Linked DNA regions of Homo sapiens. The protein of the gene in region 1 purifies or fractionates together with the protein of each later gene. This does not show direct contact. Each region holds a gene or a part of one and is shown in the gene's direction. Other genes may lie near its edges.

Region 1 (16,741 bases):
TGGACTTGGCCAGGTGCGGTGGCTCATGCCTGTAATCCTAGCACTTTGGAAGGCCGAGGCAGGCGGATCACAAGATCAGGAGTTTGAGACCAGCCTGGCAACATGGTGAAACCCTGTCTCTATTAAAACTACAAAAAAAAAAATTAACCAGGTGTAGTGGTGCACACCTGTAATCCCAGCTAGTTGGGAGGCTGAGGCAGGAGAATCATTTGAACCGGGAGGCAGAAGTTGCAGTGAGCTGAGATCGCACCATTGCACTCCAGCCTGGACAATAGAGTAAGACTCTGTCTCAAAAAAAAAAAAAGAGAGTTGGACTAGATCATCTTCGAGAGTCTCTTGTAGCTACATAAGTCTAGGAACTTGTCTGATTTTACTTTACATACAACAGAGATTTACTGAGTGCCTGCCGTACCGCAGACCTGGTGTTAAGTTCTAAGTAAATAATTGTGAACAAAAACAGACGTAAAGGGGACAAAAAAATTTTAAAACACCCAAATGTGATCCCTCTCATGGAGGAGAGAGGAATGAATGTTAATCGAATAATCACACAATGAAATATAAAATTGCAAAATAACTGCTGCAAAGGGGCAGTACATGCTGCTATGAGAGCAAATACTGGGGGGTTTGATGTAGACATGGGTTCTGTGTATTGCATGGGATCTGCAGATGCTATTTCTTCCTTCTCTCTGTAGATGATCGTATCCCCTTCCTGATCCACTGGAGTTGGCCCCTTCAAGGGGAGCGTCCCTTTGGGCCCCCTAGGTGAGGCCTGGGTGTCATACCTTAGGACTAGTCTGGGCACAACAGAGCAGACTGGGAAGGGTCAGGACTTGGGGCTAGCTTGATCTCTTGGGGACCTTGGGGAGGGGCTTGGTCCTTTGGGGGTGGGAGGACAGTGGCAGCTCCAAGGCCTGAGAGGAAGTTGGCTTAGATCATCTGTGGTAGAAGGCATAGTAGTCAGTGGAGGGAGGACCCTGTGGGAAGTGGGTGGAGCCTCACATGGCCAGCCTGAGTTCCAGGCGGGCAGTCAGCAGTGGGGTCTGGAGGGCTAGGGCTAAGGCCTCAGCACCTGGGAAGGGTGTGAGAGTCAGACAAGCCTCTAAACTTGGGGGTCCAGTGTGGGGCCTTTATCTCAGGAAACCAGAAGTCTAGCAGTGCAGATAGGCTTGGACCCAGAGCCTGTGAAGGGGCTGATCCAAGTTACAAGTCCCAGCTCATCCCCTCTCCTTGTTCCCAGGGCCTTTATACGCCACCACGGAAGCTCGGTAGATAGCGCTCCCCCACCCGGGAGGCATGGACGGCTGTTCCCCAGCGCCTCTGCAACTGGTAAAGGGACTGGCTGGGACCCTGGTCAGGGGGTGTGGTGGGCAGACGGGGCTGGAAGGAGAAGCAGGGTGAGGGAGGCATAGAGGATCCACTGCCATCTTCCATCGGTGGTCCCTCCTCCTCTCTCTCTCTCCCTCCCATCCGTCTATGTATCCCTTCCTGCAATACTCTTGCAATGCACACTTATATGTACAAAGCGCTAGGAGAGCCATACCATCCCTATGCTCAACAAAGTTGGGTCAAGCAGGTTAAGACGGCACATAGGTCACTGTGAAACCAGTTTGTCCAGTGGCTTCCCACTTTCTGACATAGGGGTTCCAGACTTTCTGGACAGTCTATATTTTCTCAGGGAGTCTTGTGTGCCCACCATTGTGGGCCCCAGCATCTATGCCGTGATGTCCCAGCCTGACCTCACCACCGCCCTGATTGGCCCTAAGCTACATCTCCAGGCCCCTTTCCCTGACACATTTCCCTTATCTTCCCACTCAGAAGCTATACAGCGGCACCGCCGGAACCTGGCTGAGTGGTTCAGCCGGCTGCCCAGGGAGGAGCGCCAGTTTGGCCCAACCTTTGCCCTAGACACGGTCCACGTTGACCCTGTGATCCGCGAGAGTACCCCTGATGAGCTACTTCGCCCACCCGCGGAGCTGGCCCTGGAGCATCAGCCACCCCAGGCCGGGCTCCCCCCACTGGCCTTGTCTCAGCTCTTTAACCCGGATGCCTGTGGGCGCCGGGTGCAGACAGTGGTGCTGTATGGGACAGTGGGCACAGGCAAGAGCACGCTGGTGCGCAAGATGGTTCTGGACTGGTGTTATGGGCGGCTGCCGGCCTTCGAGCTGCTCATCCCCTTCTCCTGTGAGGACCTGTCATCCCTGGGCCCTGCCCCAGCCTCCCTGTGCCAACTTGTGGCCCAGCGCTACACGCCCCTGAAGGAGGTTCTGCCCCTGATGGCTGCTGCTGGGTCCCACCTCCTCTTTGTGCTCCATGGCTTAGAGCATCTCAACCTCGACTTCCGGCTGGCAGGCACGGGACTTTGTAGTGACCCGGAGGAACCGCAGGAACCAGCTGCTATCATCGTCAACCTGCTGCGCAAATACATGCTGCCTCAGGTGGGTGGCCCTTTACCCCAGGTTATCACTGCTGCCCGTTGACTCGCCCCCTAGGTCCTGGGTTACTTTAACTCCTGGTCCCTTCACTTCCCAGTGGTGCGACCCTGAGCAAGTCAGTAACTTCCCCAGCCTTCTGTTCCTTTCTTTTTGAGTTGCTCTGATCAAATGGGGTACTGCATATAATATTAGCACAGCGGCCTGGATCACAGCAGGTGTTCAGTAATTGCTAGTTATAACTGTTATCCTCATCAATGTCTTCATCCTTGGACACTCCGTCTTCAGGGGTCCCCTGGGAATAGAAGCAGTCAACAGGACACTAAGGTCTTTCTTAACTCTCAACCATGCTCTTCCCAGGCCAGCATTCTGGTGACCACTCGGCCCTCTGCCATTGGCCGTATCCCCAGCAAGTACGTGGGCCGCTATGGTGAGATCTGCGGTTTCTCTGATACCAACCTGCAGAAGCTCTACTTCCAGCTCCGCCTCAACCAGCCGTACTGCGGGTATGCCGTTGGCGGTTCAGGTGTCTCTGCCACACCAGCTCAGCGTGACCACCTGGTGCAGATGCTCTCCCGGAACCTGGAGGGGCACCACCAGATAGCCGCTGCCTGCTTCCTGCCGTCCTATTGCTGGCTCGTTTGTGCCACCTTGCACTTCCTGCATGCCCCCACGCCTGCTGGGCAGACCCTTACAAGCATCTATACCAGCTTCCTGCGCCTCAACTTCAGCGGGGAAACCCTGGACAGCACTGACCCCTCCAATTTGTCCCTGATGGCCTATGCAGCCCGAACCATGGGCAAGTTGGCCTATGAGGGGGTGTCCTCCCGCAAGACCTACTTCTCTGAAGAGGATGTCTGTGGCTGCCTGGAGGCTGGCATCAGGACGGAGGAGGAGTTTCAGCTGCTGCACATCTTCCGTCGGGATGCCCTGAGGTTTTTCCTGGCCCCATGTGTGGAGCCAGGGCGTGCAGGCACCTTCGTGTTCACCGTGCCCGCCATGCAGGAATACCTGGCTGCCCTCTACATTGTGCTGGGTTTGCGCAAGACGACCCTGCAAAAGGTGGGCAAGGAAGTGGCTGAGCTCGTGGGCCGTGTTGGGGAGGACGTCAGCCTGGTACTGGGCATCATGGCCAAGCTGCTGCCTCTGCGGGCTCTGCCTCTGCTCTTCAACCTGATCAAGGTAACATCCCGATCAAGGTAACCCCCCAACCTGCTCCTTCCCTCCCCAGCACCCCAAGCCGCCCACGCCCCCACATGGTTCCCTGTTCACCCCTTGCTCCTCTCCCAGCAGGAAACTGCTGCTTCCTGCAAAGGTATGAATCTTCTCCCTGGATCTGGTTTCAGCTCTGAGCATTTTGGCTTTTAGTGGGATTGCAGAGAGAGAAGCCACAAGGCTGGGGAAGGCTTGGTGGCTGGGGAAGGGAACCTGGGGACGTGGGGACTTTAATAATAATGCTACATGGATTCCTAAAAATGGTTTCCTTTTTGTGTCTTTCCTCCTAGGAGGCAGGCCTATCCTCTGCTTTGCAGGTCCAGAAACTCGATTGTGTCTGCTCCTCCAGAGGTGATTAGGCTCTGAGAGTGATGACTCATCCTAACTAAATCACCAGAGACGGGTTTATAAAGCAGATGCCATTTTATTCATTTATACTAGGAAGATAAATGGCATTGGTAATTGGCTTAGGGGAGTCATCATGAGGGCAGGTCCACTCCAGAAACCAAATTACAGACCTGAGGACTGTGCTGTGAGTGGCACAGCTGAGCGAGGTCTTTGAGGGCTGGAAGGAGCCACTCTGTGTGATGTGTGCCAGGCGCGTTATCAGTGTTCATCCTTTTGTTTTTCACATTACTCCTGGAAAGGAAATACTATTATGATCCCTTTTATAGATGAATAAACTGAGGCTCAGAGAGGTAAAGTAACTTGTCCAAGATCACTCAAATAGTAAGTTTAAAAGCCCAGGGCTTTGTGATTCTGAATCCTGTGCTCTTTCTGCCAAACTATACTGGTGCATTACGGATATGTCTGTCGAGCTGTGGGACCTTGCTAGGTAACCTTTGTTTTCTCTAGGAATGTTTCAGCAACGCATTTTGAGGAGGCAGAGTGCTGGTTAGTGCTGGCAGAATTTCAACACTTTTTAAAAATTTAAATGTATTTTTATTTTTATTTTTTGAGACAGAGTCTTACTCTGTTGCCCAGGCCTAGAGTGCAGTGGTGCAATCATAGCTCACTGCAGCTTCGACCTTCTGGGCTCAAGCAATCCTCCCACCTCAACTTCACTGAGTAGCTGGGACCTCAGGCATGTGCCACCATCCCCAGCTAATTTTTAAAATTTTAATTTTGTAGCCGGGTGCAGTGGCTCACGCCTGTAATCCCAGCACTTTGAGAGGCGAGGCAGGTAGATCACCTGAGGTCAGGAGTTTGAGACCAACCTGGCCAACATGGTTAACCAAGTGTGGTGCCGGGTGCCTGTAATCCCAGCTACTTGGGAGGCTGAGACGGGAGAATTGCTTGAGCCTGGGAGGCAGAGGTTGCAGTGAGCCAAGATTGCGCCACTGCACTCCAGCCTGAGCAACAGAGACTCCCTCTCAAAAATAAAAAAATAATAATAACAAAATTAAATTAAATTAAAAAATAAAAAATTTTTAATTTTGTAGAGATGGGGTCTCACTAGTGATCCTCTCACTTTGGCCTCCCAAAGTGCTGGGCTACAGGTGTGAACCACTGTGCCCAGCCAACTTTTTATTTTTATAGGCACCAAAGCATAAGGGCTAAGAACAGGGATTTGGTAACTCAGCTATTTGAGTTCAAATCCAGGCTCTGCTACTTATTAGCTGTGAGACTTTGGACAGGTTACTTAGTTCTGTGCCTCAGATTCCTTATCTGTGAAATGGAGATAATACTAGAACTTATATCACTGGCCTAATATGAAGATGAAATGAACTCATCCTCAGGGTCTAGGACATGGTAAGTGCTATTTAATTGTTTTTTGTTTGTTTGTTTTTTTGAGATGGAGTCTCGCTCTGTCGCCCAGGCTGGAGTGCAGTGGCACCGTCTCTGCTCACTGCAACCTCCACCTCCCGGATTTAAGTGATTCTCCCAGCTCAGCCTCCCAAGTAGCTGGGACTACAGGCACCTGCCACCATGCCCGGCTTATTTTTGTATTTTTAGTAGAGACAGGGTTTCTCCATGTTGGCCAGACTGGTCTTGAACTCCTGACCTCAGGTGATCCACCCACCTCAGCCTCCCACAGTGCTGGGATTACAGGAGTGAGCCACCACGCCCGGCCTATGCTGTTTAATTGTTTGTCACACATAGAAACAGACTTAGTTCCAGACCAGCCTGGCCAACATGGTGAAACCCCATCTCTACTAAAAATACAAAAATTAGCCGGGTGTGGTGGCACGTGTCTGTAATCCCAGCTACTCGGGAGGCTGAGGCAGGAGAATCTCTTGAGCCCAGGAAGTGGAGGTTGCAGTGAGCTGAGATCGCGCCACTGTACTCCAGCCTGGGTGACAGAGCGAGACTCTGTCTCACAAAAAAAAAAAAAGAAAAAAGAAAGAAACAAAGAAACAGGCTCGGGCAGCCCACCCCTTCTCACACATCACCTCCGACAGGAGGTCACAGCTGCTGCTGAGGCCACCCCGCCTTGAGGATGTGCCTGCCGGACCTGAGTTGCAACGAGAGGCTGCAGTCTCCCGAGGGGATTCAGAAAGCCCCCAGTTATTGAAAACCCAGCAGAATTGTCAGCCCTGCACCCCCAAGCCCTCTTGGAGGGAGGGTTGCCCTGGCAGAGCACTGAGCCCATCTGTTTATTCACCATCCTGTGGATTCAGCTTCACAGGGTGACATATTCTGTCACAGGTTGGTGTTGGAGAAGGGGCACTATCACCTCTATGAGAGTAACCTCACATATAAACATGAAAACAAGCCAGGTGCAGTGGGGCACACTTGTAGTCACAGCTGTCAGGAGGCCAAGGCAGGAGGATCGCTTGAGCCTAAGAGTTAAAGGCTACAGTGAGCTATGATCACACCACTGCACTCCAGCCTAGGTGACACAGCAAGACTCTGTCTCTAAACAAATAAAAATTAAAACATTAAAAAGTAAAAAAAACCCAGATGTTAAAGGACGTGCCACAAAACAACGTCATGGTTTGTTGCCAGAGGAATGACCCTTCTTCCCTTTCAGAACCATTGCAGGAATGGGGGAAGATATCACAAACCCCCAACATTTATTTCTTTGTCAGATATTTGAGTGCCTGCTGTGTGCCAGGCAATGTGTTAGAATCTGAGGAAATGTCAGTTAACAAAACTACAGGTTTCAGCCCTTTCTGATCTAGTCTGAGCTCCTCTCCCAGAAGGAAACTGCTACTTCCTGCACAGTTTGAGCACAAAAATATCAATGTAACCATATAAGGAAAAATTACAGCAAATGCCTGGGAAGAAGGAGCCCCAGATGCCATGAAAGTGTATAGTGGGGGAACTGGTCTGCGGGGTCAGGAGAGCCTCTTTGTGGAAGGGCATGTCGTCTGACCCTTGTAGCATTAGCCAAAGGAAGAAGTTGGGGGAGGGGAAATGCCCCAGGAAAGGGCAGCACCCTGGAGGCTTTTTTTTTTTTTTTTTCTCTTGAGACAGGGTCTTGCTCTGTTGCCCAGGCTGGAGTTCAGTGGTGTGATCTCAGCTCACTGCATCCCTGACCTCCAGTGCTCAAGGGACTACAGGCACATGCCACCATGCCTGGCTAATTTATTTTTAATTAAGAAAATTTTTTTAATAGAGATGGCATCTTGCTACATTGCCCAGGCTGGTCTAGAACTCCTGGGCTCAAGTGATCCTCCCACCTCGGCCTCCCTAAGTGCTGGGATTACGGGCATGAGCCACTGCACCTGGCCTATGGAGGCTTTGAAGGAGGAAAAACCTTGGCACTGTTAAGATGAAAAAAGCCGAAAGGGCAGGAGCATAGCGAGTGGGGCCAAGAGGCTTGTGATGAAGGCATCGTAGTCGGCAGGGCCCAGATCACACAGGCCCTTAAAGCAGTAGGAACTGCATGTTGAAGATGGTGATGTATTTGTGATACCTAGCCCGGTCCCAAACTAAGTGTGTAATACATGCTAATTCCTTCTCACCACCTCCTGGGTTTGAAAATGTATCAGGGTGTTTGGGAAAGAGAAAGAAGTTCCTAATGTCTGCAGCACATGAGACAGGTGTTGAGAGATGACCCTGGAAAGGTCAAATTAGGGCCAAATTATGAAAAGTTTTGGGCCAGGTGCAGTGGCTTATGCCTATAATCCTAGCACTTTGGGGGGCCTAAGCTAGGGAGCCCAGAAGTTCAAGACCAGCTTAGGTGACACAGCAAGACCCCATCTCTAGTTTTAAGAAACGTTTCATATTCCAGGCTAAATGTTTGGAGTTTGCCACATAGGCAGTAGGGAGCCATGGAAGGTGTCGCAGCAGGGGAGTAGCATGATCAGACAAATTATGCTAAGTTCAAGGGGAGATCACAGGGCTGGAGCAGTCATGGGAGTGTACCTTAAGCTGAACCTTGAAGGCTGAACAGGCACATGGAAGGCCACAGTGACTCTCCCCTGCTTCTTTTTCAGGTGGTTCCACGAGTGTTTGGGCGCATGGTGGGTAAAAGCCGGGAGGCGGTGGCTCAGGCCATGGTGCTGGAGATGTTTCGAGAGGAGGACTACTACAACGATGATGTTCTGGACCAGATGGGCGCCAGTATCCTGGGCGTGGAGGGCCCCCGGCGCCACCCAGATGAGCCCCCTGAGGATGAAGTCTTCGAGCTCTTCCCCATGTTCATGGGGGGGCTTCTCTCTGCCCACAACCGAGCTGTGCTAGCTCAGCTTGGCTGCCCCATCAAGAACCTGGATGCCCTGGAGAATGCCCAGGCCATCAAGAAGAAGCTGGGCAAGCTGGGCCGGCAGGTGCTGCCCCCATCAGAGCTCCTTGACCACCTCTTCTTCCACTATGAGTTCCAGAACCAGCGCTTCTCCGCTGAGGTGCTCAGCTCCCTGCGTCAGCTCAACCTGGCAGGTGTGCGCATGACACCAGTCAAGTGCACAGTGGTGGCAGCTGTGCTGGGCAGCGGAAGGCATGCCCTGGATGAGGTGAACTTGGCCTCCTGCCAGCTAGATCCTGCTGGGCTGCGCACACTCCTGCCTGTCTTCCTGCGTGCCCGGAAGCTGGGGTGAGGACCTATCCTCATGCACAGGCATGAAGAGGGAAGAGGGTTGGAGGTGAAGAAGTGGGAAAAGAAAGTGCCAGGGAAACCAGAGGTACCGATGAGTGACCAGAAGGTGGGATGAAGAAGTCTAGTTTAGGGGCCGGGAGCAGTGGCTCACACCTGTAATCCCAGCACTTTGGGAGCCCAAGGCGGGCGTATCACCTGAGGTCAGGAGTTCGAGACCAGCCTCAACATGGAGAAACCCTGTCTCTACTAAAAATACAAAATTAGCCAGGCATGGTGGTGCATGCCTGTAATCCCAGCTACTTGGGAGGCTGAGGCAGGAGAATTGCTTGAACCTGGGAGGCGGAGGTTGCGGTGAGCTGAGATCATGCCATCGCACTCCAGCCTGGGCAACAACAGCAAAACTCCGTCTCAAAAAAAAAAAAAAAAGTCTAGTTTGGGTGGAGGTGACAGGAGCAACAGAAGGGAGGAGCCAGGCATGGTGGCTCCTGCCTGTAATCCCACTGCTTTGGGAGGCCAAGGCAGAAGCATCACTTGAGCCTAATAGTCTGAGACCATCCTGGGCAACATAGCAAGACCCTGTCTCTACAAAAAATTAAAAAATTAGTCAGGTGTGGTGGCATGTAGCTATCATCCCAGCTACTCGGGAGGCTGAGGTGGGAGGATTGCTTGAGCCCAGGAGTCTGAGGCTGCAGTGAGTTGTGATCATGCCATTGTGCTCCAACCTGGGCAACAGAGTGAGACCCTGTCTCTCAAAAAAGGGGAAGCAGGTATAGATTCCCAGAGGCAGGCTGATGAAAAAAAGGCATGGTAGATGGACAGACTGCCTGCTGAATTCCCTCCCTGGTCTCTCACCTCCCCTCTGGCCACCTTCTGCTCCAGCTTGCAACTCAACAGCCTGGGCCCTGAGGCCTGCAAGGACCTCCGAGACCTGTTGCTGCATGACCAGTGCCAAATTACCACACTGCGGTGAGTGACCTGGGAGTGGGGCATCCTGGTGGCCAGCTAAGGTCAAGGGTGAGCTCCCTGCTTCCTGACATACTTGGCACAGACCCACCCAAGGGATAGTAAATGGAGGAGAGTCTAGGCCCTGACCTGTCCCCTCCACTTCCCCCAGGTCCACTGCAAGCAGCAGGGCAGCAGGGAAACATGCCACCTGTAATGGGTGCTAAGAAACCTCTCACGTGGCTAAAATCAGCCTGGGGGAGGTGGGGAGAGAGGGTGGAATAATACCTAGGCCGGTTGCCTGGTAACAGTGCCACTGATCCCCTCCCAGGATTTTTCTTGCAGCCTCCCGAGGAGGACCCTAATGCTGGGCACTCAGTAGACACCCCTTAAGTGTTGACTGATATGTGGGGAACCTGAGCTCCTGGGTTCCCAGTTTCTGATTGGTGTAAGGGGAGGCAAATGAGGAGAGAAAAAGGAAGAGCAGGGAGAAGGATAGGGGAGTCAGAGGGGAGGGAGAAGCAGAGGCTGTGGAGGGGGTGAAAAAGGCAGAAAAAGGGAAACGGAAATGGTGAAAAGGAAGGGAATAGATAAGAAGGGAGTCAGGGGAAGAGGGAAGGAAAGGCCAGCTCCCCTACTCTGACTCCTCTGCCAGGCGCCACACCCCCTATTGCTCCAGCCTTTCTCCTGGGCCTGCATTTCTATGTCCAGGTTCCTCTTGCCCCATGCAGGGCCCTCTTTGGCCCAAGTCCTGACACCCAGCACAGGGCTGCCCCATTAAGGCTGCCAGTACCACCCCCAACCTTGCCTCCCCCTCCTCTCAATGAGCCCTCATAACCTTGGGTTGCACGTGGCTGTAGGCTGTCCAACAACCCGCTGACGGCGGCAGGTGTTGCCGTGCTAATGGAGGGGCTGGCAGGAAACACCTCAGTGACGCACCTGTCCCTGCTGCACACGGGCCTTGGGGACGAAGGCCTGGAGCTGCTGGCTGCCCAGCTGGACCGCAACCGGCAGCTGCAGGAGCTGAACGTGGCGTACAACGGTGCTGGTGACACAGCGGCCCTGGCCCTGGCCAGAGCTGCCCGGGAGCACCCTTCCCTGGAACTGCTACAGTGAGTCCTGTCCCTGGTCCCATTGCCCCCAGCCCTTCAGACTACTTCCCTCTCTCAACTGTGCTCCTCCAATCCTAGGGAGTGCTTCTGGGCCTGGGCCTGGTGCCTGTCCTTTATTCCTGGTTTCTGACTGATCCTTGTCAACCTAGCTCTGAGCCAACCCACCCCCTCTGTGACTGGCGCTTAAACTGCACCAATTCCCTACCACCATTTCTCCTAAAGCCCTACTGTCTCTGGTCCCACTGAATTCTAGTATCAGGGTCGGCTGTGGTGGCTCACGTCTGTAATCCCAGCACTTCGGGGGGCCAAGGCGGGCACATCACCTGAGGTCAGGAGTTCAAGACCAGTCTGGCCAACATGGTGAAACCCCGTTTCTACTAAAAATACAAAAATTATCTGGGTGTGGTGGTGCGCACCTGTAATCCCAGCTACTTGGGAGGCTGAGGCAGGAGAATCACCTGAACCCGGCAGGTGGAGGTTGCAGTAAGCCGAGATCATGCCACTGCACTCCAGCCTGGGTGACAGAGCAAGACTCCATCTCAAAAAAAACAAAAACAAAAACAAAAACAAAAACAAAAAAAAAAAAGAATTTTAGTATTAGTCCCTGCCTCCCACTGGCCAGCAGCCTCCACCTCTGGCTCATTGCAGTTACCTGATCGCACTCTGCAGCCAGGAGATGAGTTGTGAGGCCCCCTGACTTTCCATCCATCTACCCTCGGGCCCTCCTTCTCAGAGCTCTACTGAATGGCATCGACTTTCTCTCTCCTGCCAGCCTCTACTTCAATGAGCTGAGCTCAGAGGGCCGCCAGGTCTTGCGAGACTTGGGGGGTGCTGCTGAAGGTGGTGCCCGGGTGGTGGTGTCACTGACAGAGGGGACGGCGGTGTCAGAATACTGGTCAGTGATCCTCAGTGAAGTCCAGCGGAACCTCAATAGCTGGGATCGGGCCCGGGTTCAGCGACACCTTGAGCTCCTACTGCGGGATCTGGAAGATAGCCGGGGTGCCACCCTTAATCCTTGGCGCAAGGCCCAGCTGCTGCGAGTGGAGGGCGAGGTCAGGGCCCTCCTGGAGCAGCTGGGAAGCTCTGGAAGCTGAGACACTGGCGGCAGGCACCTAGCTATGTGACCACTGGCCCTAAACCTTTTCCCTCTGTGGCCTCCTGGCTTGCACTGCTCCCTCTAGAAAGATTCCTTCAGGTCTGGAGGCAGAGGAATGGGCATAGCTGAGCCAGTTGCCCTCCTAGGGCATGTTTGACCAGGACTGAGTCTGGAATCTCCAAGTTAAAGATGGTGAATCAATGCTTCGGGCTTGGAGATGGAACATGCCTCCTCTCCATTCAGCTAGAAGGACCAAAGCATGTGGCATTTGGATGGCCAGAGTGCCCTGAAGCACCACTACCAACCTTGCCTCCCCCTCCTCTCAAAGAGCCTCTGACTGTGTCACCAAGGGGCTCACATCTTATGTCTGCCATGCCAGGGGTGTCGCCATCCAGATGTGTTGGAAGCTTCCCCTCCTGCCTTATGCTCACCTGTGGACACCGAGGATGCCCTCACATTGGTGCTTTCTCCTCATCCTCATGCCCCCTTTGCCACAATGGTATGATGGCTTGGTAGCCCCTCGAGGCAGATGCACCTGACTTGCTGCTATTAAAAAGCCGTGTGCCTTCTACCAATTGTGGCCTCTTCTTTACTGCCTGGTGCTTCCAAGAAAGGGCACTGTTCTTGGTCTTTCTGGTTAAACTACCAACCATGATCTATTGCAAGTGGTTCTTGGGCACTAGGTTCAGAGGCAGTGGAGGCTGGAAGGGCCCATGAACAAGATATTGGCATGGGGGTTGGCCATGCTGGGCTGTATTAGTCCAGTCTCACGCTGCTAATAAAGACATACCCAAGACAGGGTAAGTAATTTATAAAGGAGGCTGGGCATGGTGACTCACGCCCGTAATCCCAGCACTTTGGGAGGCCGAGGTGAGCGGATCACCTGAGGTCAGGAGTTTGAGACCAGCCTGACCGACATGGATAGACCTCGTCTCTACTAAAAATACAAAATTAGCTGGGTGTGATGGCACATGCTTGTAATCCCAGCTACTCGAGAGGCTGAAGCAAGAGTATTGCTTGAACCCAGGAGGTGGAGGTTGCCGTGAGCCGAGATAGTGCCACTGCACTCCAGCCTGGAGAACAAGAGTGAAACTCTGTCAAAAAAAAAATTTATAAACGAAAGAGGTTTAATTGACTCACAGTTCCACATAGCTGGGGAGGCCTCACAATCGTGGCAGAAGGCAAATGAGGAGCAAAGTCACATCTTACATAGCAGCAGGCAAGAGAGTGTGTGCCGGGGAACTCCCCTTTATAAAACCATCAAATCTCATGAGACTTATTCACTATCATGAAAACAGCACGGGAAAACCTGCCCCTGTGATTTAATTACCTCCCACCGGGTACCTCCCATGACACGAGGGAGTTATGGGAGCTGCAATTCAAGATGAGATTTGGGTAGGGACACAGCCAAACCATACTATGGGCCATAGAATTATCACCCTTTTCACACTTACCCCCCAGGCTTGGAGTTAGTGACCAGCAATCTGCCTTTCTCTGCACAGAGGGGCAACTGGGTCAGATTCAGGGTCTCCAGAAAAAGTTGGGGCCCAGGGATAGATTCAGGAGGAACCCACACAGTTTTCCAGAGGATAAGACTCTCAGCGGGGCACGGTGGCTGACGCCTGTAATCCCAGCACTTTGGGAGGCCGATGAGGGCAGATCACCTGAGGTGGGGAGTTTGAGACCAGCCTGACTAATATGGAGAAACCCCATCTCTACTAAAAATACAAAATTAGCCAGGTGTGGTGGTGCATGCCTGTAATCCCAGCTACTCGGGAGGCTGAGGCAGGAGAATTGCTTGAACCTGGGAGGCAGAGGTTATGATGAGCCAAGATCATGCCATTGCACTCCAGCCTGGGCAACAAGAGCTAAACTCGGTCTCAAAAAAAAAAAAAAAAAAAAAAAAAAAAAAAGACTCTCACTCCCGTTAACCATTACCCCACTGCTTCCACAGCGTCTTCAAGGAGGCGGGACCTGGGAGGGGATGGGTGGGAGGATCAGTGGCTGTGATGAACCTTGTCCCTACCCCGGGCACTGGGTTGCTGATCCAGCTATGGAGAAAGCCGCAGGTAGGAGGCCAGGAGAAATCCTCTGCAGGGGACTTTGGGACAGGCAGGGGGCCGACTTGGAGGCTGAAGCTTTGGGACCAGGGCACACTTGATTTTGGGGCTTGGAGCCCTGAGGCAGGTAAACAAGTCAGGAGAAAAGTAATGAGTTGATATGTCTGTCTTCCTGGTCCACACCCTGTACTGATATGCTCAGATTTATGTGCCAAGGACTTGGGGGGAGAGAAAGGGAGGGGACCGCACAATAGTCCTGTGTGTATGGCAGTGAGAAGAGAAGACCCCTTTGGAGCAGAAAGGAGGGGGCATGCCCTGAGTTTGGGGGTTTCCCTGAGTCCTTTTAGTTTATGCCAATGGAAGAGGCACATCTGGGGAGAAGAATGTGACTCTCCTCCTCTCACCCACTTCTTTGCCCAGTAGATCTGCAGGACACAGCCTCGTTAACTCTGTAAGTGCCACGAGGGTTGGGGCAAGGGGAGGAAATAATTGGAGGCAGCGAAGCGCTTCACTGCCATTAGCACCTAAAGGAGATCCTGGGACCCAAGTCCAGCTGCCAGCTTGTACCTGCTTCCCCTGCCTCCTTGCAGGAAGTTTAAGTTTAACCCAAAGCTGGGCATTGATAATCCTGTCCTCTCCCTGGCCGAAGACCACGACCCCTATGGTAACTCCCTCACCCCCTGGCAACCATTCCCTATCCCTGGAGGCACCACGGCTCCACACGGCCTCCGATCTCCTTGGTAACCACTCACTCGGTCTCCCTCTGATAACAGCCTTGGTTGGGAGTAGAGATAGGAGGGGCCGGGTGTTTTCTCCTGTCCCAGTCCCTCTGCCCACGAACCCCACCACCCAACACCCAACCAGGCAGAAACTGCCCAGCACCCTATCAGGACACAGGGTCTGCCAGGCACACGGCGAACCTGTACTTGGGCTGTGCCCTCTCCTCCCCCTTTTCTGCTGCCCACCTCACCCTCCAGATCCCTGGAGCCTGGAGCGGCCTCGCTTCTGTTTACTGAGCAAAGAGGAGGGCAAGAGTTTTGGCTTCCACCTGCAGCAGGAGCTGGGCAGGGCTGGGCATGTGGTGTGCAGGGTGGACCCAGGCACCTCTGCCCAGCGCCAGGGTCTTCAGGAAGGAGACAGGATCCTGGCGGTGAACAATGATGTTGTGGAACACGAAGACTATGCGGTGGTAAGGCTGTGGTCCAGGAGAGCATGCTAGCACCTCAGAAAGAGAAGCGGGTTGCTCAGTCCCCTGGGCAGTATGGCAGCAGGGCACAAGCCTCACTCCCCCACACCCCAGGATTTAGAAGTGCCCAAGTCAGAGGGGTAGGGAAAGCATCTAGAAAGCCGATTCCCGCTGGGCGCAGTGGCTCACGCCTGTAATCCCAGCACTTTGGGAGGCCAAGGCAGGTGGATCACCCAAGGTCAGGAGTTCAAGACCAGCCTGGCCAACATGGCAAGACCCTGTCTCTACTAAAAATACAGAAATTAGCTGGGCGTGGTGGCAGGCGCCTGTAATCCCAGCTACTCGGGAGGGCTGAGGCAGGAGAATCACTTGAACATGGGAGGCGGAGGTTGCGGTGAGCTGAGATCGCACCATTGCACTCCAACCTGGGCGACAAGAGCAAAACTCCATCTCAAAAAAAAAAAAAAAAAAGAAAAAGAAAAAAAGCCGATTCCCTTGGCAAAAAAATGTGGATTCCAGGGAGGTCCTGGGGGTTGGCAAGAGGGTCTAGACCAAACCCACGCCCACGTGCCCTCTGTCCAGGTGGTACGCCGCATCCGGGCCAGCAGCCCTCGGGTGTTGCTGACAGTATTGGCACGGCATGCACATGACGTGGCCCGAGCTCAGCTGGGAGAAGATGCCCACCTCTGTCCCACCCTAGGCCCAGGGGTCCGGCCCCGGCTGTGCCACATAGTGAAAGATGAGGGTGGTTTTGGCTTCAGTGTCACCCATGGTGAGCCCAGAGGGTGCGAGGGGGCGGCAAGGATGAGGGATCTCAGCCCCTGTTCAGGGCAGGCAGGAAACAGACTGGACCTTGCTTTTTTTTTTAATTTCTAGGCAATCAGGGTCCTTTCTGGTTGGTGCTAAGTACTGGAGGAGCAGCTGAGCGGGCAGGGGTGCCCCCCGGGGCCCGGCTGCTGGAAGTGAATGGGGTCAGTGTGGAGAAGTTCACTCACAACCAACTCACCAGGAAGGTGTGACTGCCTGTCTCCCACTCTCCTCCCCCAATCCGGGCCTGGGCCCCACCTCGGGAAGACGCCTCCTTCCCCATGCGCCTAACCTCCTTATCTGGTCTCCTACCTTTATCACCATCCTCCCCCTCTACAGTTTGTGCCAGGCTCCACTTAGTGCCTGGGAGGAGGGGCTGTGGGGGGAGCATACCTCTTCTCTCCCTGCCCAGGTGTTATACTGATGCCCTGCTGGGTCCCCACAGCTTTGGCAGAGTGGACAGCAGGTGACCTTGCTGGTGGCAGGGCCAGAGGTGGAAGAACAGTGTCGCCAGCTGGGATTGCCCCTGGCTGCACCCCTGGCAGAGGGCTGGGCACTGCCCACCAAGCCCCGCTGCCTGCACCTGGAGAAAGGGCCCCAGGGTTTTGGGTTCCTGCTCCGGGAGGAAAAGGGCCTTGACGGTCGCCCTGGTGAGTGGGAGCCCTGGGGGCGGTGGGGGAAGGTGGGCCTTGGGGTGGGCACACAAGCGTATATACACCTTTCAGTGCACCGAAGAGGTGTCCCTGTCTGAGCTCTGGCCCTGGGCCGCCTCTTCCCGTTCACTCTGGGGTCAGTCCCCTGGTGTGTACACAGTGGCCTAGGATAGCTGGAGAGGAGCAGTGAGGATGTCTATGCCCCAGGACAGTTCCTGTGGGAGGTGGACCCGGGACTGCCAGCCAAGAAGGCTGGG
Region 2 (7,000 bases), on another chromosome or scaffold:
ATTAAATAATTTGTAGGGTAATGAGAATTTTGAGGAATTTGGTCACATTTCATGTTCTGTTCCTGGATATTGTATTTTAAAATCAAATATTTCTACATTTAGGAGTATCATTGTTATGTGAGTTTTGCTTTCAATTATGATAACTAAAAGTTAATGATTTCAGGTGGTAAATTCAGATGAGACTGCAGCTATACTGACTTACTGTTTATTTTAACTGTAACAATAATGGCACTTCAGTATTTTCTGTGGCAGTTATTTTATCAGTTTATTAATTAGGTGGTTTCTGTTGTTACTCAGCTTTTGAGAGATTAATGTAATCTAAGATATTCAGGCATTAAATTAAGGCACGATTCATCCTTCACATCATCTCACGACCATGCCAAATCTCACTTTTCTAACTTGCAAATACTGTATCGTTTTCATCCTTTCTTTGTGGTTAAGGTCTTAGTGTATTTTCTTCTGCCTTAATTTGTAATTTATTTTTTATTGGATAAATGATAGTGACATTCATAAAATAGATTTTTAATTCTTGCAGAACTCAAAGTAAATGGCAGCTTTCTTGTACTCTACCTGTCTAAGAACATTTTATGGATTCCTACCAGATTTTCATGATCTCAGGCATTGAGGTGGTCATATTGGTAGAAATGAATGGTAATTTACTGATACGCATTTGATGATTGTCTCTGCTCCAGAGACAAATGGGCCCTTTACTATTTTTGCTTAGCTTGGAATGCTGCCTCAGGTTGAGATTTTCATGGTACGGAGGCTACTGCTGTTCTTTGTACTTTAGCATGCCCCATAGAAATAACTGAACATCTCTCTGTATTACTTTAATAATTTCTGAAAGGCCATAGGGCAAGTAGAAAGTAAAAAGCCAGCACATAGAAATTGCCAGTATAGTTACTTAGGTCTACTGAGGTTTAAAATGTTTAAGTGTTAGAGGTAGACACTGTGTACTAGTAGTATAATGATTATAGTGCCAGGAACAGCCTCCAACTGTATAGATGAGATTCTGAGAAACTTAACTAGCTAGAATAGGCTTCTTTGTGGTCATGTTGACATTGTGATGATTGCACTGTGACATCTATATCATCTTGATTCATCCTGGAACCATTATTTGGTAATGTAAAGTTGGGGCAGTGGGTTTCCCTAATTTGGGATACCTCTTTAGGATTGCCTCATTGTTGTCCCGATTACACCACAGCCTGTGGAAGAGAAAAGTGACAGGCATTAGCTTTGTCTTGAGAAATTTAGAGTCTGGGTTGGGAGTTAAGGTATACATGAACAACTGGAGAGAACTGGAAATTAGACATGATGTGCCATGCACTTTGAGCCTAGGACATTTAAATGATGGGAAATATTATGGGATAGAATTAAAGTAAGATTTCTGGGAGAAAATGAAGGCTTACATTTAATTCTATTGGTGATCACATAAACAGCTAGGAAATAAGTCTGGAGCTGAAATAGTTTTGTAGAAGGGGGGGGTCCTGATCCTGAGAAAAGCTTTTTATTATCAGAAGTTCTGGTTCGATGATATATTGAAGTGAACCTAGGTTTCAGAGGGAAGAGAAACAAGTTCAAAAAGTAGTAGTTGCTGTGATAGGAACTTCATCTTTTAATCTCAGCTTTGATTGAATATTTATTTATTTATTTATTTTTATTTTTATTTTTTTTTTTGAGACAGAGTTTCGCTCTTGTTTCCCAGGCCGGAGTGCAATGGCGCCATCTCGGCTCACCGCAACCTCTGCCTCCCAGGTTCAAGCAATTCTCCTGCCTCAGCCTCCCGAATAGCTGGGATTACAGGCGCCCACCACAATGCCTGGCTACTTTTCATATTTTAATGGAGATGGGGTTTTACCATGTTGGCCAGGCTGGTCTCGAACTCCTGACCTCAGGTGATCCGCCTGCCTTGGCCTCCCGAAGTGCTGGAATTACAGGCATGAGCCACTGCTCCTGGCCTAAGATGTTTTTTAAATAATGTTTTTAACTAAATTTTAAGAATGTTTTTAACTAAAGTTATTTATATTTGGAATAATTCGTTAATGATTTGTGTCATTTCCCCAACCCCTTTTTAAATTTGTGAATTTGAGGACTGGATTAAAAGATAAAAAGTTGTTGGATCTTATTTATTTTAAAGTCTTCTGGTAATTGAGCAAGTTGGTTATATTTCTGGGACAATGTAATAAACATAGTTCATTTCCCAGGAGGTTTTTGTTTTGTTTTGTTTTGTTTCGTTTTGTTTGAGACAGAGTCTCACTCTGTTGCCCAGGCTGGAATGCAGTGGCACGATCTCTGCTCACTGCAACCTCCGCCTCCCAGGTTCAAGCGATTCTCCTGCCTCGGCCTCCCGAGTAGGTGGGACTATAGGGGCGTGCCACCATGCCCGGGTAATTTTTTATATTTTTAGTAGGGACGGGGTTTCACCGTGTTAGCCAGGATGGTCTTGATATCCTGACCTTGTGATCTGCCCGCCTTGGCCTCCCAGAGTGCTGGGATTACAGGCGTGAGCCACCGTGCCCAGCTGACTTCACAAGAACTTTAAACTTGTGTCAGAAAGCACATGGAATGGAGGGAACTAAGAATTGTTTCTTTACATAGGTTGGCTTTATAAATATACATATTCCATAACTAATAAGGAATGAAGGAGAAAGAGGTAGCCTTATTAAGGATAAATTATTCTCGAGATTCATAATAACCTACTGGAGGACTTGGCCTGACAATGTAGTGAATAGATTTAACCTGTGGCCTATTGAAAAGAGGTGTTTCTGTTCTGGACTTTTTAGGGACCACACAGAAAGATTTAACTGAATTCCTTTATTATACTAAAGGTGCAGATTATGTTCATGTTCATCTCTGTTGTCTTGTATATGTATGTCCTTTTCTATCACTACTGGCTTTTCTGAATTATTTCCAGAGAAGTGAATGTCTGTTTCACTTTCATGTTTTTTTCTTCATAAGAACTTTAAAATACTTTTTAAGCTAATGTCTCAATTTTTAAATTTATAGCTAACAAATATATTTAATCTTCAGTGCGCTAGACCAATCCATTTAAATGAATTGTTGTTTTTTTATACTTTCAAATTCAGTTCTGAAGATTTTAAGTATGGGAAGTATACTTTTCTTTACAAGATCCTTTTCTTACTGTGTATCTAATCATAGGTATAATTTGGTGACCATGGTTATGTTTTGCACATTGATTTCCATTTGTTTCATGTTAGAAACAGTACTAAACTGTTCTGTGACCATAATTTGTAAATAAAGTGGTGTTCTGTTTAAAAACAAGCCCTGTTATCTAAAAAACAGTTTTTTGTGTTTTACAACATTCTTTCAAATGGAGTATCTCATTTAATTCTCACAACAGTTGTATGTAGCTAAGGCAGGTATCATGGTCCGCATTTTACAGATGAGGACACTGAGGTTAAAAGAGATTAAGAGACTAATAGGGTCACTTGGCTAGCACATCTTGAGACCACCCTAAATCTTGTGGTTTTTATCCTTAATCTCACAAATCTTTTCCTTTGCTACATTTAGAAGGTAAAAGAATATTTGTTCACCTTTGAGGAAGCTGGTTTCCATCAGTATTTTATTGTAATTCTGAGGGTTTTTTATTTTTTATATTTTTTTGAGATGGGGTCTTATTCTGTTGCTTAGGGTAGAGTGCAGTGGCGTGATAATAGCTCACTGTAGCCTTGGACTCCTGGGCTCAAGTGATCCTCCTGCCTCAGCTTCCCCAGTAGTTGGGACTACACTTATGTGCCACCATGCCTGGCTAATTTTTTTTTTTTTTTTTTTTTTTTGAAACGGAGTCTTGCTCTGTTACCCAGGCTGGCGTGCAGTGGTGTGATCTCTGCTCACTGCAGCCTCCACCTCCCAGGTTCAAGTGATTCTCCTGTCTCAGCCTCCCGAGTAGCTGGGACTACAGGTGTGTGCCACCACACCTGGCTAATTTTTTTGTAGTTTTAGTAGAGACAGGGTTTCACCATGTTGGCCAGGGGGGTCTCGAACTCCTGACCTCAGGTGATCTGCCCACCTCGGTCTCCCAAAGTGCTGGGATTACAGGCATGAGCCACCAGGCCTGGCCAATTTTTTTATGTTTGTTAGAGAAGGGGGTCTCCCTATGTTGCCCAGTCTGGTCTCAAACTCCAGTCCTCAAGCTATCCTCCTGTCCTGGCTTCCCCAAATTGCTGGGATTTATAGGGATGAGCTACTGTGGCAGCCAAGAAAAATCTTTAAAAAATTACTATCTTATAACTAAGCTTATACAATGAAGACAGCATATTTTATTGTCTTCCCCCTTGTACACAAACTTAAAAATCATTTTAAGAACTGATAAGAAGATCGAGAGTTCTATTTTCAAGATGTAATATTGTACCAACAAAAGCTAAAAAATTCAAATATGTATAGTGTATTACTGAATGGAAGACTAACTCGATTGGCAGAGTTTATAGGTAATAGTTTTAATAGTATGATAAAATTTATTGTGGTTTATGTTGAACTCTTTTTAAAGATGATGAGCATTGATTCTTTGTTTTCCATATCCTCGAATGGTAATTTCTACTGTTGAGTCATTCCAATAAAAGCATTTTGGTCACATAGTAGTGATTACTTGGCTTGCCTTTCTTGCTTCTTCATTTTTCTGACCTGTTCTCTCTGTTCATAAAACAAATTTATAAACGAGCTGCTCCTTAAAATATAGTTGAAATTTAAAAAGTAATATAGGAAAATATAACTATGGGAAATAAAGTTACTCACTTAAGGGTGGGTTAAAAATAAAAATACCAGATTATCCCACACATTTCTTACTGAACCAGAACATTTAAACCAAAGAAGCTCATTGCGTTTTATAACTCCCGGTTTTCACAATACCTTCTAAGGAAGAGAAAGATGTGGATGATAGATTTGAAAAAAGTAATTACTTGGGTCAGGAGTGGAGGCTTGCTTTGAACGCTTTACTTTGAGAAAGGTTAGTGCCCAAGAATCACAGTGTCAAGGGTAGGAAAAAAAATCATAATGCAAACAGATGACTACCGTTAGAGAAATGTATAATAATACTTTACTTTGTGTAGGACCCTACATCTGAGGAATTTCAAGAGCATTACACAATAACTCATGGTTCCTTTCAAAATGCTTGTGACACAATTTGCAAGAATTATCCTCATCTTAGGGGATAAATTTACGGAGAAATGGCAGCACACGTTGGTAAGTAACTTGTCAAAATAGCAGATGACTGGTGAACAGCTATAAGTTGAATCTGAAAGTTAGAGTCTACCAGTCTCCTACCTTATTCACTAAATTGTGCTTATGTTTAGAATTATTTACAGTAATATCTTCTGTTTGAGGCAGGTCAAATACTAGTGCACAGATTGTTTCCCTGCCATTCGATTTGATGGCCTGTTAAATCATTATTTTACCAAGATGCTTACATTCTGATACCACTTTGATACTTCAGTATAACTCTGTGTGGTATGAAGAATATTTGAACAAACGAACAGAAACTTAACTATGGTAATGCCCAGTCTTTTCTCTTTTCTGTTATATATTGTATATATCCCCTTGTCTAACTGCTATGCTGTACTACAAGCCAAGGTCCATAGTAACTGACTTGCAGAATTGATTTGGTGGCTAACCTTGGAACTTGGATTAGTTATGTTGTATAAAGTCCGCCATGTAGATACATGCATCTCTCTCTAAGATGCATTGGTTTGGTGGATGCTTTATAAAACTCTTAAAACCTACACAGAAGACAAAAATAGCAGTAGATGCCTAATCTGAGCAGTCTAACAAAGGGAAACTTCTTTAAAGTACTTGGAACCAGTGATTTTCTCTTGGGTATGTTAGTGTTTTTACATGATTAGAAGTGAGCCACATACTTTCCTTAAAAGATCAGCAGTGTGGTAGATTTGGTTTTACAATTTGGGTACTTAGCAGATTCTTGTTGCAGATGGCAGTCTAGGTAGTCTAGTTACCATTATCTCCTTAGTAAAGATTCTTAGGTTCTGTATTCCCAATATATCATACAAATGTAGCACTGTTTTTAAAGCTCATTTCTCACAAAGGCATGTATTTTTAAAACTGCTTTGAAGACACAAAAGTTACTTCTGTATTCCTAGGCTATAAAGTATATCAAGTGCTTGGGATATGTATGAAAGAATCTAATAGAGGAGGTGTACTCAAATGTTTATATAAGAGTTTATTTGGGCTTGGATAATGTTAGTAGAAAAATGGGTAACACTAATGAGGAAACTATATTAATGAGCTCATGGTTGACCTTCTTTCTGTTCCCCTGGATTTTTTTTTTTCATTTTGATGAAATTTAAAAGGCAATAATTAATTTTAAATTGTAATGAGTTATGATAATTACCTTATATGCGAGAAAAACCTATGCTGTGTGTAATTATACAGACATTTTATTGGAGTTTTGTTTTGTTTTTTTAGACAGGATCTTGTTGTCACTGGAGTACAGTGGTTAAATCGTGGCTCAATGCAGCCTCGACTTCCCTGGGTTCAGGAATCCTCTTATCTCAGCCTGCTGAGTAGCTGGGACCACATGTGCATGCCACCATGCCCAGCATATTTTTGTATTTTTTATAGAGACAGGGTTCCACTCTTTTGCCCAAGCTGGTCTCGAAGTGATCCTCGCACCTCAGACTCCCAAAGTGCTGGGATTATAGGCATGAACCACCACGCCAGGCCTTATTAGAGTTTGTTTGTTTTTGTTTTAATGGGAAATTTCTTGCATTTCGGTGGCTTATTCTTTAAACCATAAGTTTTATTTGCCTAGATTTACTCTTTTGTGTTCATTTCTAGCATGGCAGAATTTTGGTTTAGCCTTTCTTGGCCATAAGACATTCTGGAATCCTTTAGAATGGGCTTTTCACAAATTATTTGAAAATATATTAATTACTTTTTTATTCATATCTAAGTTTTGCCTCATTTTATTCCTTTGCTAGGTGTTATACTATTCTGAAATAACATATTTTTAGTTTTTCATAATTGTTTT

The links.
Region 2: the proteins of NLRX1 (region 1) and HERC4 purify together in Homo sapiens (affinity purification with mass spectrometry; 2 studies listed by BioGRID and IntAct, with this or other methods). This does not show direct contact.

Annotation. Positions count from the first base shown.
Region 1 is NC_000011.10:119,171,664-119,188,404, forward strand, and holds the end of NLRX1 (NLR family member X1 isoform 1 precursor), read left to right. Parts: intron 1-692; coding exon 693-762; intron 763-1,237; coding exon 1,238-1,326; intron 1,327-1,815; coding exon 1,816-2,435; intron 2,436-2,789; coding exon 2,790-3,611; intron 3,612-8,029; coding exon 8,030-8,625; intron 8,626-9,507; coding exon 9,508-9,594; intron 9,595-10,430; coding exon 10,431-10,682; intron 10,683-11,454; coding exon 11,455-11,776; 3' UTR 11,777-12,157; coding exon of another isoform or gene 12,158-12,317; 3' UTR 12,318-12,353; downstream 12,354-16,741. Other genes in the region: NHERF4 (Na(+)/H(+) exchange regulatory cofactor NHE-RF4), read left to right, coding at 14,500-15,027, 15,607-15,796, 15,901-16,037, 16,277-16,481, 16,692-16,741.
Region 2 is NC_000010.11:68,065,284-68,072,283, reverse strand, and holds part of HERC4 (probable E3 ubiquitin-protein ligase HERC4), read left to right. Parts: intron 1-1,684; coding exon of another isoform or gene 1,685-1,791; exon of another isoform or gene 1,792-4,595; intron 4,596-5,066; exon of another isoform or gene 5,067-5,183; coding exon of another isoform or gene 5,184-5,199; intron 5,200-7,000. UniProt on the Homo sapiens protein: Probable E3 ubiquitin-protein ligase involved in either protein trafficking or in the distribution of cellular structures. Required for spermatozoon maturation and fertility, and for the removal of the cytoplasmic droplet of the spermatozoon.